Regions from separate parts of the Homo sapiens genome. Here region 1 is linked to region 2. The links come from fine-mapping of genetic effects on gene expression. A gene starts in region 2. The other region holds a variant in brackets. All regions are shown on one strand. Distances are from middle to middle.

The links.
Region 1: its variant is fine-mapped to the expression of GCSAM in nasal epithelium (TOPMed, PIP 0.98).

The regions. Positions count from the first base shown.
Region 1 is chr3:112,260,944-112,263,765 of GRCh38, forward strand. It overlaps SLC9C1 (solute carrier family 9 member C1), which reads right to left. Exons shown (of 29, transcript NM_183061.3): 10 at 1,981-2,155. Among named protein-coding and RNA genes, the nearest start is that of SLC9C1, 32 kb to the right of the region's middle. The variant C/A (reference allele first, on the strand shown) is at 1,643.
Region 2 is chr3:112,132,217-112,135,038 of GRCh38, forward strand. GCSAM (germinal center associated signaling and motility) reads right to left here and starts at 1,032. Exons shown (of 6, transcript NM_152785.5): 1 at 876-1,032. The coding sequence starts at 904. It overlaps TBILA (TGF-beta induced lncRNA), which reads left to right and starts at 1,207. Exons shown (of 1, transcript NR_157393.1): 1 at 1,207-2,822. It also overlaps a transcript of C3orf52 not described here. RefSeq lists enhancers at 638-697, 1,178-1,357.

The DNA.
Region 1 (2,822 bases), 130 kb after region 2:
TCCATGATACCCTGCCTCCCCAAATTCTAGCTACTTAAGTAGCCCTAAACTCTCATATAGGTATTTTCTGCCCAGTAAGTTTACTGCATCCTGTTTGGCCTTCACTTCTCTCTGCAACATTTTTGAAGAAAGATCAGAGTGAATGTGAACTCTCCTTATGTGTTCCATTTCTCTGAAGGATCTAACCAGGCAATGTCCCTTATCCAATACCCCAAATCAGTTGCTTCATATATTTTAAACATTTTTGTAGTTGTTTACTATGGAAAGTAAGTCTGATATCCACTATTCATCATAGTAAAGACTAGAATTCCACAGACATTGATATTTTTCAAAAAGTTCCTAAATCAATCTAAAGTGCATTGCATTCTAGGTAAAAGACCACTCAATTAGTTAAATAGTTTAAAATTAATAAGAGCTAACACATATAACAGGCTAATAATACAATATACGAGGCTTATTTAATCTTCACTGCAATTTTGTGAGGTAATTACCAATACTGTACAATTACACAGATGGGAATCTAGGGCACTGTGACTTTCCCAATATAACATAACTTATGAGTAGTAGAGACAGAATTAAAAAGGCAATATGTCTTTGATGTTAGTATTTTTAACCCTTTACTATAATGCCTCTGGGTAAGTATTAACTGTAGGGTTCAGCTAGATTAAATTGAGAAAAGGAGTTCTACTTTCTTCTCAAGGAGTTACTTCTAGTGAGGATATTTACTAAATGATTTTACTTACTAAAATTTTATTTTAAAACACTACGGCAAAGTATATCATCACTTATAATTTCATCATCAGAGCTTGTATTTATTGTACAATTGCTATATGCTAAACAATGTGCCAAGTGTTTTATGTACATTTTTTGTTTCTCATAATAATGCTTTGTGAAAGTAGTGTGCTAGGCTGGCTCTTACTAGCTCATGAGAGCTAATCGTTCAATTTCAGGAAGTTTATGAGCTGACTGATGTTCTGTTGGTGGAAGTGATTACACAACAGAAATGGGCAAATACTACAAATTAGGACTTCCTCTCACCTCAACACTTAAGTTACTTGTTAAATATTTACCAGCAAACCATTGATACTATTAAGTCTGTTTTGGAGTGAGGAAACTGATACTTGAGGTGAGGTGGAAATTAAAAACTTGCTGATGTCCACGCAGCAAATAGCATCTAAGCTGAAAATTTCAGAACCTAGATCTGTGCACAAGGTTAGCCGTCACACTGATCAGGTGTATGGTGATGACACTGATCTTGAATATTTGGGCTTGTAGAAATAGATAGAAGGGAGAGGTCATGCAATATCAGATAATTTTGATTTTAAAGGCAGTTTAAAGATTAGTTTTTTAAATATTTGGACTGAGTATTATTTAAGTAGATACATAATGATTATCTTGCCACTTCTCTTTTTACATTTGGAATTTTTGTTAAAAAAAAAAACCCAGATGATAAAAGCATCAGATGCTCTGTGATATCTGCACAGAAATTTTCTTACAGAGATCCTTGTAATTATCTTGCCCAGACACATGGTAGAAGGAGAGTTATGCCCTGTATTTTCTGCTAAGCAGAGTTTGAGGGTACTGTTTAGAGTGTTTTACCTGACAATTAAAATGTTTTGGCTCATAGCATTACTAAATGAGC[C/A]TCAGAAAGTTACAGAAGGTAATAGGGCCAATCATAAGAAAGTTTTCACTTCTCTTGAGTGCAATAAATAATTAAAACATTATTGAGTGCACCTTTTATGCCAGGTACTATTTTAAATGATTGATAAGTTTTAATTACTTTGATCTTTGTAATAAACCTATTTCAGGGGAGAAGGAAAGTTGCCAGTTGTTCCTCCTCTCCCCGATCTTGCCATCATAGCTAAATCACTCCTACATCCCAAGTGAAGTTGAGCTACCTCACTACAAAAAAACATATATTTTAAATACACAGTAATAGTTTTATACAATATTCAGATAAGAAAATACAGCTTTCTTTACTTGAGATTTTTCTTTGTCAGATCCAAAATAAAGATCAGAGTAGGCAAGCAGAAGGGCCATGTTTATATTAGGCATCCCCTTCATTTCACTACAGACCATTATGAATATCCAGCGCCAACTGAACTCATGACCAACTCGAGACAAAACAGGGCTTATTAAAAGAAGGGTCAGAAATCTAAAAGACAAAACAATTTTTACAAAGTTATTCTTTCATATGAGTTTCTTTCCATTTCATGCTACTCTATTCTAATCTACTCCCTGTAGAATTCCTAACTCTCAAACAAATGAGACATCTTTCACACACTGTTGACATGACACCAAAGAAAGGCAGCAGGTATTCCATAGAGAGACATGCCAAGAGAATGGTATTATTCTTTCTTTCTTTCTACTAGGTGAGTAGCATAGTAAATTTACATCATCCTTGAGTGGTGCTCCTTCAGGAGGAAAAAGAAAAGTTCGAGATGTGTTGTACATAAATTCTGAATCCCCACCCCAAATAAAAACAAATTTAATGAATAAGAAGTGAGAAAATGTTCTCTGTTTCTTTTTGTTTATAGATTTTAATCTTGCTGAATTGGTCCAATATTGGCCAGATTTTTTTTTCCTTCAGTCATATATCATTCCTATGTTTTACACTAATTTTATCTGATAATTTGGGAAATAATTTTATTTTACTTGGCACTAGATGCCTTGACTTCAGCAATTCAACTAGATGGAAGTAGAATGTTAATCATTTGAGTAATGGAGATTAAAGACCTATGAGACTCTAGTTATGGTGGTTTTTCTCACTCTATGCTATCTCCTTTTCAGCTACATAAACAGACTTTTTCTACCTCTTAACA
Region 2 (2,822 bases):
ACCACCAATCCTCTTTTCGGCAAGTGGTCAAAAGTGGGCTACCATTTTTTCCTGTGTTCCACTCTCCAGTAGCATGAACTGAGACCAGGGATTCCAAACATAACCCTGTGAAGACCCCCTCTGGCTCGCTTACTCTCTCTAGATCACCCCACTTTATACCCTAGAGATTACCTTGTCTGTGGTGGCACTATTTTGGTGGCACGGCTTTGATATTAAGGAAGATGATGGTCAGAAAAAGAAAGCAGAAAATATCTTCTAATTTTGAACCCTACTTTATGTCAGGCACTATGCTAGCACAATACACACTAGAACTCTCTAAGGTAGATATTGTATTATTATTTCTACTTAAAATAAAGAGGCTGAGGTCCAGAAAGTAAATCTGAGTTCTGTGCCTATTTAATCTAGATGACCTCTGCTTACCTGCTTGCAGGGAGTGCACATCAAAGGAAGACTCAAGGTGGCAGGAAGCTTGCTGTTTATTTCAAACTTAAAATAGTGGCTGAAAGAGGGTGGTGATTTTGACCTCCTTGTGGAGCATGAGGAGCTCAGGAGAGCATCTCCTTCCCGGGCTTTCAGAAAGTTGTTTCATTTCTTAGGTGGTAACCTATTATATAGACCTTCCTTGGTAAAGTCTTTCCACCTTTCAGCTATTCTCCATCAGCTGCTCACCATGATTCTTGGGAGAAGGCAAAACCTATGGGAAATTTAATGTGGTATCTGGCACAGAGTAGGCACTGAAGGCTTGGCAGTTTCCTTACCCAACTACTTTCTACCCCAACTTAGTGTGCTAACTGTATACTAGCTTTCTTTTTCTCTTCCTTGCTGTATTGTCCTGTCCCATCTCCTCTGCTCTCCCACAGGGAGTCTAGACTTACCTGTTTTCTCTCAGCAGAGAATTTCCCATCCTCTCAGTCCTCTCAGGGCTTCCCCTCCGTCCCTTTACCACTTCCTTCTTGCCTTGTGCTCTGACAGGGCAACTCCTGACTTAAAGAAAGGGCTGTGTGGCTCTGGCCACCCGTGCAGAGACAGCAGAAAGGAGAAGGGTGTCTCTGCAGAGGGAAGGAAGAGGCTGGGGGAGGAGTGTTAGAGGCACGCATGTGCAGAATGTCCTAACATGTCAGTGCCTGAACCAACCTGGCTGTTGGCCATAACCAGCAACTACCCGTCAATGAGAGCTTCGAACCTCTGGGGAATCCCAGGTCTGAAATTACAGATGGGCCATGGGAGTTTTTCCACTACAGATATTTACGTTTATAAATCACGTTGTCTTCTTAGAAAAGTCAGAAGGAGGTTAAAACAGTCAAGCCACAGACCTGTAGAAAATATAGTATCAACAACTCTCAAATCTGAAAACAAACACCCAGTAACAAAATGGGCAAAATATTTGAACAGACATTTCACCAAAGGAACTATACAGATGAACATTAAAAGATGCTAAACATTGTAGTTATTAGGGAAGTGTAAATCAAATCCACAATGGAACACTTTTACATACTTATTACAATGGCTATAAAACCCTGACAATATCAAGTATGGCAAGGTATGCAAAGCAACTGGAAGTCTCATGCATTGCTGATGAGAATGCAAAATGACAGCCTTTTTGGAAAGAAGTGATAAGGACAGAAGGCAGGGCTTTACTGGGTAGAAGAGGGTGGTTCACTGGCAAAGGTCCCACCCTCAAGCCTTGAAACCGAAGCCCTAAATGAGAACAGTTATCCCTGTTATCCTGCCCAAATGTTACTCTTTAGCCTGTCCAGCCCCCCTATCCCGTGCCCATATAAACCCCAGACCTCAGCTGGCAGACAGACAAGCGGCTGAACATCAAGAGGAGAAGAAGCAACTGAGTGTCAGAGATGTGGCTTAACTTCAGGTGGCATGACTTCAGGGAGGAGCCCGGCCAGAGACAGCAGACTTCAGGGAAAGGTCACTTTCTTCCTGCACCATCCCCTTTGCAGCTCCCCTTCCACTGAGAGCCACTTCCACCATTTAATAAAATCGTCCACATCCATCAACTTTCAAACCATTCATGCAACCTGATTCTTCCTGGATGCTGAACAAGAACCTGGGTACCAACAGGGCAGGGTGTAAAAGGCTGCCACCCTGACTCTCCATTGAGTGGGTTAACACTTAGCTGTCCACGGATGGCAACTGCTAAAAGAGCATGAATTGTAACACATCCCTAAATGCTGCTGTTGGGCTGGAGCCCAAAAGTGCTCATCGAAGCCCTGGCACCCGCTTGCCTGCGTGCTCCCGCTCCCACAGAGAGTTTGAGCATGGTGGTGGCCAAGTAAGTAGGCCACACCCCTGTCGCAAGTCCCGAGAAGGGGTCAAGGGAACTCTCCCATCTCAGAAGTATGGCAATTTCTTATAAAATTGAACATAGGGTTACTGTACAACCTGGCAATTTCACTCCTAGGCATTTAGCCAAGTGAAACTTATGTCCTCTAAGACTGTGTGTACAAATTTTTATATGTGCTTTACTCATAATAGCCGAAATACCCTGGAAATAGCCCAACTGATCTTCATTGAGTGAATTGCTAAATAAGCTCTGTGTTATATTACATCCACACAACAGAATCCTGACCATCATTGAAAAGGAGTGGACTATTAATACATGCAATAACTTGGATCAATCTCAAATGCATTACACTAAGTGAAAGAGACCAGACTTAAAGCCTACCTTCTGTGACATTAGAGATAAGGTGAAACCACAGGAACAGAAAACATATTAGTGTTGCCAGGAGCAAAAGGTGGGGGAGGTGTTGACTTTCAAAGCACAGGAGGAAATTTTTTGTTGTTGTTCTTTATCTTGATTGTGTTAG